Homo sapiens: one gene and its partner. The protein of the gene in region 1 interacts with the protein of each later gene in a biochemical or structural test. Each region holds a gene or a part of one and is shown on either strand. Other genes may lie near its edges.

The links. The genes of interacting proteins can lie anywhere in the genome.
Region 2: the proteins of CACNB4 (region 1) and CACNA1A form a complex in vitro, tested with the Homo sapiens proteins (2 studies listed by BioGRID).

Annotation. Positions count from the first base shown.
Region 1 is NC_000002.12:151,851,041-151,858,066, forward strand, and holds part of CACNB4 (voltage-dependent L-type calcium channel subunit beta-4), read right to left. Parts: intron 4,336-7,026; coding exon 4,184-4,335; intron 2,504-4,183; coding exon 2,408-2,503; intron 1-2,407. UniProt on the Homo sapiens protein: The beta subunit of voltage-dependent calcium channels contributes to the function of the calcium channel by increasing peak calcium current, shifting the voltage dependencies of activation and inactivation, modulating G protein inhibition and controlling the alpha-1 subunit membrane targeting.
Region 2 is NC_000019.10:13,503,473-13,510,370, forward strand, and holds the start of CACNA1A (voltage-dependent P/Q-type calcium channel subunit alpha-1A), read right to left. Parts: upstream 3,008-6,898; 5' UTR 2,753-3,007; coding exon 2,460-2,752; intron 1-2,459.

The sequences.
Region 1 (7,026 bases):
CTGCCAATGTAATTTGCTGACTTTTCATACTGGAGATATGGTGGCCAATTAAGTAAGTCGCAAATTCTCCTAAAGGAATTAAAATGACACAGTGATCACCAATCTTTGGATGACAATTATAATTATGGTCTTGAAGTAAAGCAGGGGCAAATGCAGACACATTTTAAGGTTACTACTGGTTTTTATAATCCAAAGATTTCTTCACACATGCCAAAATAGAGGATACTATTCCTCCTCAGCATTACTACATCTGTGCAGTATCAATTGAACATGTTTAATAAAGTAAACAGTGTTTAGAAAATGCTAAGTACAAGGTAACCTTATCCATCCAGACTGCCTGTTTAAAATTCCAGGTTATCTTACCAATTATATAAAAAGATAAAGTGTTTATCCTACTGAGATAATGGTAAGGCAAGGCTGTCTTTCCAGTCATGGAGCTGTTTGAAATCTCTGACCTGGGTACAAGTCCTAAGGTAGCTCAGTATATTAGTTGCTTTTACAGATGCAAATATCTTTTCTTGATTCCAGCTATTTCAGATGTAACAAACCATATTATATGTACAACTACTCAATGATCAACCCTCTCAGCAGCTAAAATCCCTCAAATTTAATAGGACACAAGAATTTTCTCTAGTAATTATTAGAATAAATGTTAATAAACTTATTTTCATAAAGATAAAATTTCTCCAATAAATCTCTTGCATTTGTAATTCCATTTAGGTGTCTGCTTCCCAGAAGACCAAACTGATATAACTATCCTTATAAGATTGTTCCAAAAATTGGAAATAATAACATAGTTCCCGGCTTTTGATAGCTAGACAACAAAGATTATCTTCCTTCAACTGTGAAACATTAGAAGGTCAGGGCTGGGCAATACATTCCTCTGTCTGTTCAGTGCCTTAATCATACATTCCACTGTGTAATTGGGCTTCACTAACAGGCAGCGTGAAGTGAAACTTAACAGAGCACGCCATGCTCCAAGCTATCAAATTATCTTCAGGGTAGGTAACCAGGTACATGTGTGTATGGGTGGATGGGTTAGGGGGTAGGAAATTGTCTTTGGAGCCAGATAGATCTAGAATAGATTGAATCCTAATTTGCTATGTCACCTTAGGGAAATCGTTTAATGTCTCTGTTTTCAGTTGCCTAAACTATAAAATGGAGATAATATGGCCTATCTCACCAGGTAACTGTGAAGATTAGAGATAATCTATGTAAAGCATCTAGCACACTGTGTGGCCAACTGTAAGCATCTAATGAAAGGATGCATTATTACTCTTATCGTCTGAACATCCTTTCATTTATTCACTCATTCCACAAATATATATTATGGGTCTACTATGATAGGGAACTGACATACAACAGTGAGCCAGAGGGGCACGGGTTCTTACAGAGTCTACTGGACCAGACATGACGTCACACAAAGTGTATCCAGTAATTATAATAAGAAAACTTAGACGGTGCTTCTTATGTTCCTGGCGCTGTTCTAACAGCTTTACCACATATTCACTCACTCAATCCTTACACCAATCCCATGAGATAGGTACTTGCCCAAGATTACATAACTAGTCAGTGTGGATTCAAAACCCAAATATCTGGCTCCAGAGTCTGTGCTTTTACAGGTTATGCTGTGTTGCCCTCTCTAAACATTTGAATCAGATTTCATGCTTCCATAGAGCTTAAACAATCCTACACAAGTGTATAAAACAATCTAGTGAATCCATTGAGTAAGAAGGACAGTTATTTCCTTTACAGAAACATAGGCACAGAAATAGTAAGTCAGTGGGAAAAGTGGAGAGACTGGCCACTGGGGACCCAGTGCCATGTGATAGCAGTTCCATCTCCCACCCCATCCCACCATTGCTCACCTTCTAACCCAGCAGCTGTTTTCTGGCAATGGCACTAGAAGAAGAGTTGCTATAATTTCGTTTTTCATCTGACTCAGCCCTGACTCTTTCATCTACTATAACCACAGGGCCTCTCTAGTTCCAATCAATTCTTGACCTTCAGTGTCATAATCTTTTATGCCTGCTGGAATTTTCTTGCAGAAGAGTTAAAGGAAGATCAAATTGGTATGTTTTCTTTTGTTCTTTTCTTAAGCGTATCCATGTGACTGGAGGCTGAATGCTAAGTGGTTTGCTGCATGTTTGCAAAGCAAACAAGGTAGCAGTGAGAAGAACAGACCCCGGACACTAAGTTCATTTCTTATTACAAGGCAAACACCATCCACATCTGGATGCCTGAATACAAGCAACATAACAGCAGCAGTTTGTTCCAAGAAATCTTTTAGATGACAACATACCATCATCACCATCATTTTAGAATGAAAACAACAATATGAAGAAAAAAAAACCCACCCTCTTCTAACTAGTCAAGAATGATGAAGACAAAAAATGATCATACTTACTGGGGGGCATTGTGCAAGTTTATCAGCTGCCACCAGTTGAACATTCAAGTGTTTACTTTGTGACTTTCCTCTAGATTTAATCAACCGCTGTAAAACCTGATAGAAGAAGACATGAACCTGAGGTATTGTAGATGAGTTGAAAGAAAATCAAATAAGCCAGGATCTTTTTAATGGTCTGCTTGGCCCTGAGTATTATCAGAGAGGAAATGCAGTGTGAGAAATCATATATTTAAACCTGTAATGATGTCATCTGCTTACATTGGCTCTCAGTTCCATGGATTTGATATGTTCATCCTATTCTAACTCTGTGTGAAGTCTCAGGAGGAGCCTGAGTTCCCATCCTAGATTTTTCCCAGAGATTTCAAAGAGAGACCTGTAAAAATGGAGGGAGTGGACTGTACCAGGTCATTTATGTTAAGTAATACTTTAATATTATTCACCTGAATAATGTTTTAGCTCACTATCTCCATGTCAGATAAATGTCAGAGTCATTTTCTGGTTATTTTTGTCACCGATTATTAATGGGACATTTCAGTTTAATTTTAAATTAATCAGACTATTCTGTGATTGGAGACCCAGGCAAAACATTTGTATTAGTATATTGCTACATGTAAACCAGTGATATATCTATGTCTTTTGGCCACTGCTGTAACTGCATTTGGTCATATACTGCCATGTCCCGTGGCCCTTCCCCTGCAAACAATGCTAATCTATGAGCTCTATAATACCCCAGGACATAGGTGTCTGGGAACTCCTGTTCTTGCACTTAAGGACACCACAGTGTCATGGGCAGTGGGAAGGGCTGAACTCTCCTGCACTGCAGTGAAGTGCTTGAACCCCCAGCAGCTCTTTCAATCCATTCTACTGATTCTCAAAAGGCCCTAGTTTGTTCAGGATTCCCAAGTCCACTGCACCAAAGCAGTGTCTGCAGAGATAGATGGAAGGCTAGGATCTCAGAACATCTGGAGGAGAGTACAGCTTCTTTAGACATTCTCCACCCATGAGAGAAGACTGCCATGCTGGTTGGCAGTTGAATTTGTATTTAGGCACCAAAATACACTAGGAGGCACAGAGAAGAAACTGATTATTAAGATAGTACTTCCCAAGGGTAACCATTTCACGTTAACTTTTTAAGAACAACATCCTTTTTTAAAAATGAAAGAACACCCAAATCAAAAGAAACCAATTTGGGGCTATTTCACTTTTATTTTTACCTCCCACAATGGCATAAAGATACAAAGCAAATTTCCCATTGTGCTTATCGTGGAATAACCACATTCTTTCAAGAACTCAACCTAAGCACAAATGTCAGGGTCTATAATGCTTCCATAGGAGATGTTTAAACAGTGATATTCTATTTTATATATGATCAACATAGATGCCTTTTTTGATCAATATAGATGTACTCTCTCAACTAGGTACAGAGTATGGATGACACAGGAATCAACAGGATCCAAGAAATTTACCAATATAGAATTCATAGTCTATGATAAGCCAGAGTCTACTTTTCCACATCTGTCTTAATGTTTTGTTTCTATTATACACTTGCATAACTGTCTTGTTTGGGATCTACAATAGTAGCTTTTAGAAGAAATGAACTATTATATTCTTCACTATCTGAAAATTCATAGAATCTGTACACTGTGGAAAGATTTTAAATGTGCTTATTAATAATCAGCAAGACGTTCTCCTTTGTCCACTAACAAAAAACCACAGAGCAAAACACATTTTTAAAAGATGCACTTCTAAACCTTAAGGCAGAAAGGAGCTAATTACCTTTGGAGATGAGACTTTTACATGAACAATAATTGGTGCTAAGGAAGTCTTTATAAGTTGTGCTGGGTGATTGATGGTGTCTGCATCAAGAACAACCAGTTGCAAAGATCTTGCCAACTCAAAGATTCTTTCAATTTCACTTTGTACTTCCGCTTAAAGGAAAAATAATAAATAGATCCCGGTTATTGTTATGAATTAGTTCTTACATTAGAAAGATATAGTATATTTTCAGATATGTTGGTCTACATTACAAAATAAAACATTTTAAATTTTCATAGTCCTGTCTAATTTAAGACATTTTCTAAATATAGACAGAGATGGGTTGAGTTTTGCATACAACCAGTTGGTAGAAACGTCTGAGATGGCTCTCTTAATTTGCTTCTTCTAGTCAATATAATATTTAGCTGTTTATATAACTACGATGATTATTTTATGTTGTTTTTGATTGTTGTTTTGTTCTAAAGAACTTTAATGTTAGCCATAGAAGCTAAAAGCACATTTAGAAAACAACTGAAATATATGTGCAAAGCAACATCACATGGAAAGCAAATTACACTGAAATATTTCTATCAACGAAGTATAAACTAATACTTTGTGGACATGCTTCTTTTAAAAAAACCCCACAACTCATCTGTTTTGACTGATATGCATATTTTTGTACCACTGGTTAATTGTTCTGAGTCTACCCTTAAAACTAATCATATTACTAAGTCTAGTTAGATTTAAGTACGAAAGCCAATGTACTTGTTCTAAGGCATAATTAGCTTCAGTATTAAAAAAAAAAAAGTAAGGCCAATTATATTAAAACGCTGCAATGCATCTAGATGCAAATCTATCTGGCTGGCTGTAATAGCCAAGTGACCCAAATCTGTGCATGAGTCTAGTCAAATGAAAAATCTACTCTTTTCAAATGTCTGAAGCAATCCAGTTTTTTTTTTTTTTAAGGAAAACAGATAATCAACATAGGACATGGCTTTCTGAAATATAAAAAAGTTTTATATATATATATATTTTATAAATTACCTGACTTATTGGATCATGCCCAAAGTCTGAATTATACTATTTGATTTTCAGAGAAATTGATTTGTTTTCGTTTTTGAGACACAGTTTCACTCTGTTGCCTAGGCTGGAGTGCAGTGGCATGATCTTGGCTCACTGTAACCTCTACCTCCCGGGTTCAAGTGATTCTTGTACCTCAGCCTCCCACATAAATGGGATTATAGGCACACGCCACCATGCCTGGCTAACTTTTGTATTATTAGTAGAAGCGAGATTTAGCCATGTTGGCCAGGCTGGTCTTGAACTCTTGAACTCTTGACCTCAAGTGATGCACCCACCTTGGTCTCCCAAAGTGGTGGGACTACAGGCATGAGCCACTGTGCCCAGCTGATTTTGTTTTTTATTTTTATTTTTTGGCTATAGGTGTGACCAAACAATGCTGTAATCTGGTCCAAAGTACATACAGTACACAAAACTATCTAACTTAAATTATTATTATTAATTTTTAGAGACAGGGTCTCACTCTGTGTCCCATGCTGGAGTGCAGTGGTACAATCACAGCTCACTGCAGCCTCAACCTTCTGGGCTCAAGTGATCCTCCCACCTCAGCTTGCCGAGTAGCTGGGACTACAGGTGCACATCACTGTGCCTGGCTAAATTTTTTATTTTTTGTAGAGACTGGGTCTCACTAAGTTTCCCAGGTTGGTCTTGAACTCCAAAGTCCAAGCAATCCTCCTGCCTTGGCCTCCTGAAGTGTTGGCATCACAGGTGTGAGCCATTGTACCCGGCCTTAAACGACCCTAAAGATGGCCTAGGGAAAAAGGTAATGTTGCTCTAAATATCCTCATTGAAAAGTGTTTGTGATTTGCTTTGCTTATTTAGTATAAATTCAAGTTCACATAGCCCACCAAAAAATTCTCCCTTCCTTAACCAAAAGGATTGACAAGGTGTGCAGGGTCATGAATACTCAAGACTATCATGAAAATCTATTTTCTTATGTTTTGCATGATTGCATAAAATTCTTATTTCCCATAGAATCACTGAAGTTTAAGGCATGATCTGTATTAAAAAGGATTAATTTGAAGAGTCAACATATCACTTTTCATGTTATCCAATACCAATGGCCTGAAAGACTTCACATTGCTTGGAAAGGTGACTAGCTTTCAGAATATTAATGAAAACAAGTGGGCTTATTTGTCAAATTCTTCTGAAATCATATTCTACATTTGTTAGTAATGTAGCATATTTGTCCCCTTTTCTCTCACATGGCAGAAACAGTTTTAAAATAAATTTTCTTCAGAAGGAAGTTTGGAAAATAAAGTCAATTTTTACTGTAGTAAATTTCAGCCTCAGGATGTCAGGGTATGTTTCCCATTTGCTGTTTTCATTAAACTGTCACTGGCTTATGGGAGCTCCTGGCCAGGACTACATGTGAGCAAGCCTATGTTTTCTTAAGCTTCAAATATGAATACAATATTTTCAGAAGCAGCAGAAAGACATTGATGTGAACTGGACTGCCCTGGTACAAATAACCCTCAAGGCACTCTGAGTTTCTGTGTAAATGACTCAGAAATACCTGGGCCTTATTTACTCTGCACCAGCAATGAGGTTAAGTGTGGTTTCTGCCAGGAGCAAGGGCAGCCATACCTACTGCTTAACCAACACAAAACTCTTAGGCAACAGGCACTTGGGCAGAGGAAGAGAGGTGCTTGGGCAGAACAAGCCAGCAGGGATGCTGGAGAAGGCCACATTAAATACTGGGGTGAGCCCAATGTTTGGATAATATGTATACAGAATGTAATAAATATATTTTATCTGTGAGGCATATTTATCTATATAGCTCT
Region 2 (6,898 bases), on another chromosome or scaffold:
TTTTTAATGGCAGAAATATTTAGATTAAAAAGTAGAATGTTCTGCCCTGGTATCGTGACTCTGACATTCCACGTGTCTTTCTCTTTACACTGGCCTGAATTCTTTTATTCACTACCTCCCTCCCCAGGTCTCTGTCCATCCCCTCTCATCTCCAACCCTCCCACCCACCCCGCCACCGCCCTCCGCTCCATCCAGGACAGAGAAAGCTCAGTCCTGGATGACCCAGCTCGATGACAGATTGTGAGGTGGGGAGTTTTCCCTTCCAGAGTAGGGCTGTATAATGTGTTTGTTACCTCGGGTCAAAGAGAACAAAAACAGTCTGCAGAGAGCATAATGCACAAACTCATCATAAGAGCAAGAAAGCCCCGGGCGAGCTGGCCAGAGAATAGATGAAGTGGCAAGCAACACTCGCAATTCACCTGCCTCCCTCTCCCACGATTCCCCCTTCCGAGGGGCCACTGCAATCCCCCTCTCCCCCAACAGCCCTCCAATCTGCAGGATTCAGGCTGGACAGAGGTAAGCTAAGGACACAGCAGAAGGGCTCCCCACCTCCTTCCTTTCCTCTTAGAAGTCTCCAAATCCAGGCTCCAGAAGGCGATCTAAAGCCATTTTCAATGAGGAAACCTGTCAGCCGAGCAAAGCCCTCTCACTCCTGGAGCTAACTGGGTGTGCACCCATGAATACCCTGTCCTCCTGCAAGGCACTCCCACTCCTCACTCTGTTGATAGGCAGAGTAATCAAGCCACCCCTGAGCACTTCAATGGGCCTGGGATGGTGAGGAATTGCTAACCTTAAGAACCAGCCTCTTTAAGAGTCTGAAACTTAGGAAGCAAAGACCTGGCACCTGCTTTGGGCACCAACGGAGATGGCATCGTAGTTAGAGGTATGCTCCCCTCAAAAGCACCTCTGCTGAACTTCTTAATTTTCCCCACCCTCAAAGTAGACCACTCACACACTCCAAAACCTCAGTGCCCTCTGTTGCAATCCCAGCACCCAGGATCCAAGCGCCAGGCTCGATTTTGAACCCCCCTGAAGTGAGTCCCTCTACCACCCGCCATGCTCCTCAAACAGCAACCCCCGGAGACCACACAGGGCCCAGCCCCGTTTAGTCTATAACTGCAAAACCACATACAAAAGGGATAGGGGACTCATCGCTGAGCCCCAGGGACCCATCCAGCCCGTTCATTTTTACACAGAGGGCAGCTGGTTGGAACTGTGCGGAGAAGCGGCACATCTGGGCATGGCACAGTGGCCAGCCAGCCTGGGCAGCAGGGTGTGTCCCCCCTCCTGGAATCTGGGTCATGCTTAGATAACTGCTAGAAAGCCCGACTAATTACCCACCCTTGCCTGCCTACATCTCGATAGATGTTAAGCCCTCCTCAAGGTTTATTTCAAGCAGGCAGGGATTTAAAGAAACACAGAAGATCTGCATTTTGATAGCATCTCCACAGAAGAAAATGTGGGCTTCACCTTTTTCCTCTGGATCTTTGATTAAAAAAAAAAAAATTTAAAAGGCATTTACCTACCTAAGATGTCCACATGGGTGCTGATTCTCCTGGTGTTCCCTCTCGGCTACTCGGGGTAGGAAAAGCTGGACATGGTGCTCTAAAATGGACCCACCACCTCATTTGCTGTTGCCCTGTCTTTCTTACTGAAAGTGTCCAGATCAGGTCTTCCCAGGCCAGGGGCCCAGATAAAGCAAGTGGGATCTCTTTCTCGACACCCCCAAAGATGATGAGGTTCCCCAATCAGCGGTTAAAGGCAATGGGACCTGCACACATGAGGGAAACATAAGCGCCCCCCAGCCCATCACTATCCTCTCCAGATAGGAACAGCGGCCCACCCTGGGGTACTCACTTCGGCCAGTGCTGGCTTCTCAGTGTGAAGGCCACATGGACTCCCTCTTGCTCTTAGCCCTGGGAGCCCCCAAGCGCCCTGCCCTAAAAGTGCGGCGGCCCCCCACCTTGGGGAAAGCAGTAGTGGAGAGGCTGTCCAGCTTCCCCTGCGTGGACTCCAGTGAGCGACGGCCAAGAAAACCCAACCAAGGCCCCCATAGTTCCCCTGCCCTGGCCAGAAGCGCCCAGGCCCGAGCCCGCTCCAAGCTCACTCCGTAGAACTCCAAACCCTCCGGACTTGGCTCGAAAGCCCCCACCAAGGCTCCTGCACGACCCCAGGCCCCAGATCTCATTCTAGAGTCGGTCCTTGGGAAGGATCCACTCTCCGCTGCCCACCCCCCAGCCCCCCACAAACCCATTCCCAAGCCTCCAGGGTAGCTCAACCCAGCTCGGGGTGGAGAGATTCTTTCACACTCCTCCCGGTGCCCCCTCTCCCAGCCCCTGGAAGACCCCCCTCCTCCCCACCTCCCATCAACCCCCGGGTCTCTCTCCCAGCCTGGAAGAGGGGAGGCGGAGGGAGGAGGGGGAGGCGCAGCTGCTGCTGGGGTTCGGGCAAAAGGATATGGCCATTCGGTGATCTTTTTGGCGTATTTTCTCACCACGTTGTCTTCGCTGAAGAGGAAGAGAGACCGGTTAACCGTGAGGCAGTTCTGTCGGACGGGGATGGGGTTGTAGAGTGCCATGGTCCGCGCTCTCTGCGCCATTGACTGCTTGTACATCCTTTGCGCCCCGGGCTGCCCGCCCTGCCGGCTGCCCCCGGCTCCTCGCCCGCCTCCGCTGCCCACGACCACCCCGGCGGCTGCCCCGGAGCCTCCTCCCCCGTAGCGGGCCGGCATCTCGTCTCCGAAGCGGGCCATTCTGCAAAGAGCAAAGGGCTCCGGGTTACGCTGCGGCGAACGATGCGGAAGACGCCGCCGCCGCCGCCGCCGCCGCTGATGCTGAGGCTGCCGGGGCTGGGAGCGCGGCGGCTGGAGCTACGACTGCGGAGACGCTCCACGGCCCAGCCCATCGGGCGGCGGCGGCTCGGCGCCTCGGGTCGGGGGCTCAGAAGGCGGCTGCCCGGGCCGAGCCGGGGATAGCAGCTCGGGACATCTTCCTGGCTGACCCCGGAGAAGGAGGGGCGGGAGGAGGGTGCGGGGGCGGGGCGCGGGGGCCCGGGGAGGAGGGGGGAGGGGAGAGAGAAGCGAGGCAAAAAATAACCGAGGAAGGAATCCAGGCAATCCCCAGTCCACCCACTCCGGAAAAAAAAAAAAAGAGACAGTTAAAAAAAAAAAATCCACCCAACGCACACCCCCTTTAAGACGCGAACGGTTTGCAAAGGACGCCCCCCCCGGGACGCAGTGGAAGCTTCAAATTCCTCCGAGGTCCGGGTCAGGCTGGCATCTTGCAAAAGGAGTGCGCTCGGCCCATTAAAAAAAAATAAAAAATAAAAAATAAAAAAATATATATATATTTAAAAATAAAGAAAGACGAAACCCAGGTCTGGGTGGGGAGGGCAAAAAAAAAAAAAAAAAAAATTAAGTGCCCTTCTGTTTTGCTGGAGTTCCTAGACCTTAAAAATGCTGAAAGATCTGTAGCTCCAAAAATAAAATAAAATAAAAACAAAGAAGATGAAAGGGAAGGGAAAGAGGAGGGAAGGGGAGTAAGACGCTCCAGAGGGTTCCTAAGGAGTCTTCACACCGCAGGGTCCAGGTTTAAAAAAAAAAAAAAAAATTTTTTTTCTTCCTGAATCACCAACGGCTGCCTCTTCTGCTCCCGGAGGAAGTGTGAGTGTGTATGTGCGCACAGCGTTTCGCTCAATGGTGCCTCATCTTGGGGTTAAATTGCAGCAGTGAAATCCTGAAAATTCCCAACAGGGGGAAAAGAGAGAGAGAGAGAGGTATGCGCCCTCCGCTTAGCCACTCAATAGCTGCCCCTGGATGCGGCAATGCCTCTCCACCCTCCAAATCCCTCCACCTCCTCCTTCTCTAGGTTTTGCTAAAATAAGACTGGTGTGGAGGGTTGCGGGTAGAAGAAGGTAAAGAGGAAAAAAAAATGGGCGCAAAGGTCTGAACCACTGGCCAGCAAACGGAAAAGGGGAGCAATTGATGAGTTTAACAGTAGAAGGACCCACCCAGAGTGTCGACACATGAGGGCCCGCGACCAATCGTGGAGGCTCGTGGAGGCGCGGGGGTACCGGGCTCAGCGGAGTTTGTGGGGGAGAGAGGGGAGCGTCGCATGGTTGGGAGGCAGGGAGGGGGGAATTGGGGTGCTTCCTCCTCCCCTGGGAGGAAAGCCTGTTTTCCACCCCGTTCCATTTCGGTTGCAGACAGCCGGACGCTCCCCAGCATCTTGCAAGGAGAAGGCAGGATGGAGGCAGGAAAAAAACTTAAAAGACAGAAAAGAGAAGGGGATTTGTGTCTAGAGGTGCGATTCGTCAGTCTCTAAACAAATTTGCTCTGTTTAGCAAAAGACCATTTTTGAAAGTGGAGAGAGTGGTTTGGGGTTACTTCTGTGAACGTTTCAAATCACAAGGACTCCTGCAAGTTGGAATTAAAGGTTTATTCTACCTTGGAGACCCCAGAGGTGACAAGTCTGAACTCCCAGGAGGAAATAATTAACCAGGTCCTAGTTGGCTGGATAGGGGTTCTGGGTGGTATAGTTTGCTTGATACTCACGTCTCTCCAGAACCACTTTGATTACTTCCCATTCTGCTTTTTGTGTGGTGAAATTCAATAAGCACAAAGAAAAATGCATAAAACATAAAGGTACGGAGTTAAGAAATTGGTCTGAAATGAACACTCATGAAATCAAGTCTAGGGCTAGAAATGGAACATCACCACCTCTGCAGAACCCCCTTTGCCAACACGCTTACACAGCCCCTTATTCCAGCAATAATCGCTACCTGACTTTATGGTATTCATATCTTGCTTTTTTAAAAAAAGTTTGACTACCTTATTATGCGTTCCTAACCAATACAATTTTACTTTGCTTCTTTTGGGCTTTTATATAAATGGAATAATCATATAGTATATATTCTACAGTTTCTTGTTTCTTCGGTTCAACATTATGTCTTTAAGATTCATCTGGCAGGGCACGGTGTCTGCGCCTGTAATCCCAGCACTTTGGGAGGCAGAGCATGAGGATTGCTTGAGGCCAGGGGTTTGAGACAAGCCTGGGCAATATAGCAAGACCCTGTCTCTCCAAAAACCTTTTTTAAAATAAAAATTAACCAGGCATGGTGATGTGAACCTAGTCCCAGCTACTTAGGAGGCTGAGATGGGAAGATCCCTTGAGTCCAGGATGTTGCAGTGAGCCAAGATCAAACCACTGCCCTCCAGCCTGGGCAACAAAGTGAGACTCTGTCAAACAAAACAAAACAAAACAAAAACAAACAAACAAAAAAAACAAGATTCATACATCCTAATCTGTTTCGAATTTTAGAAAAATTCACCTGTTTGTTGTCACACATGGCTGTGATTCATTCACTTTCACTGCTGTATAGTATTTCATCAAGAGAATATGCCACAATTTGTTTATCCATCATCTTGTTGATGGGTATCTGTTTTTTTTCCAGTTGGGGCTATTAAACATTACTGCCTCAGGTACCTTTGGTGCAGATAAGAATGCATGTCTCTAGGAATAGCCTTAGGTGTGGAATGTCTGGGTCCACAAGGTATTCATATCTTCAAGCTTATAAGATGTCATCAAACTGTCTTGCAAATTCAATGTACCAAGAAACCATTGAATTTTCATGGAGCTTGTATACGCAGAAAGGCCAAATGGAGAGGAATGGGAAAAGGATGAAAAAGGCAAATATTCTTTCAAGCCTTAGCTAGTTAAATCCTAGTTAATTCCCTTCCCCCCTCGCCACCCCACACACACATATCAATATTCGAGTTCTTTTGGAACACTCTGGAAAGATGATATGTCTTTATATAAAGTCCCCGTTCTGTGCCAATGCACCAACTATTATACATTGCCCCATAGCACTTTCAAGATTTTCTAACTTGTCACGATATGGATGAAATGATTAAACCAAGAGTGATTGGAATTGCAAGGAGATAGAATTGTGTGGGATTCAGGGAGAAGGAGGGGCTTTTAAGGCGCTCACCAAATATCAGTGATTTTTGTACTTGACATTGTTTCAGATATAAAAGGTGAACAGCAACTAATATGAAACAAGAAGCGAGCCCATGTGTTCAGATGGGAAGAACCAGTCATATGAGAGGAGCTGAGTTGAACTTATCATTTGTTCTGATGGACCTCTCTGAGAAGATTATTCAGTTTTAGAGCAGGAGCATTACCTGCATAGATCTGTGAAGACCCCAGAGTTTTTCAGGAAAGAGTGACATCTCACTGATGGAGCTCCTGCCAGGGTAAATCTCCCACTGAGTCTTCACAGCAGCCCCGTGGAACAGATGCAAACACTGAGGGTGAGGGAGACTTAAAAACTTTCCCAAGGTCACTAACGTGGATCTGAACCCATTTCTGACTCTTGTATTCTGTTGGACAGAGGGGAATTTGGTACAACCACTTTGGAAAACCGTTGGCTGGGTGCAGTGGCTCACATCTGTAATCCTAGTATTTTGGTGGGCAGAGGCAGGAGGACTGCTTGAGCCCAGGAGTTCAAGAGCAGCCTGGGCAACATAGTGAGACCCTGCCTCTACAAAAGGAAGGAAGGAAGGAAGGGAGGGAGGGAGGGAGGGAGGGAGGGGGGAGGGAAAGAAAGAGAGAAAGAAAAGAGAAGAAAGAGAGAAAGAAAAGAAAGAGAAAGAAAGAAAAGAAAAAAGAAAAGAAAAGGTCAGGAAATAAATAAATTAGTTGAGCATGGTGGTGCATGCCTATAGTCCCAGCTACTGGGGAGGCCAAAGTGGGAGGATTGTGTGAGCCCAGGAGTTTGAGGCTGCAATGAGCCAAGATCATGCACTCCAGTGTGGGAGACAGTCAAGTCTCAAAAAACAAACAACGACAACAAACACATAAAAAGAAAAACTTTTTGGTCATTTCTATTAACATGGCCA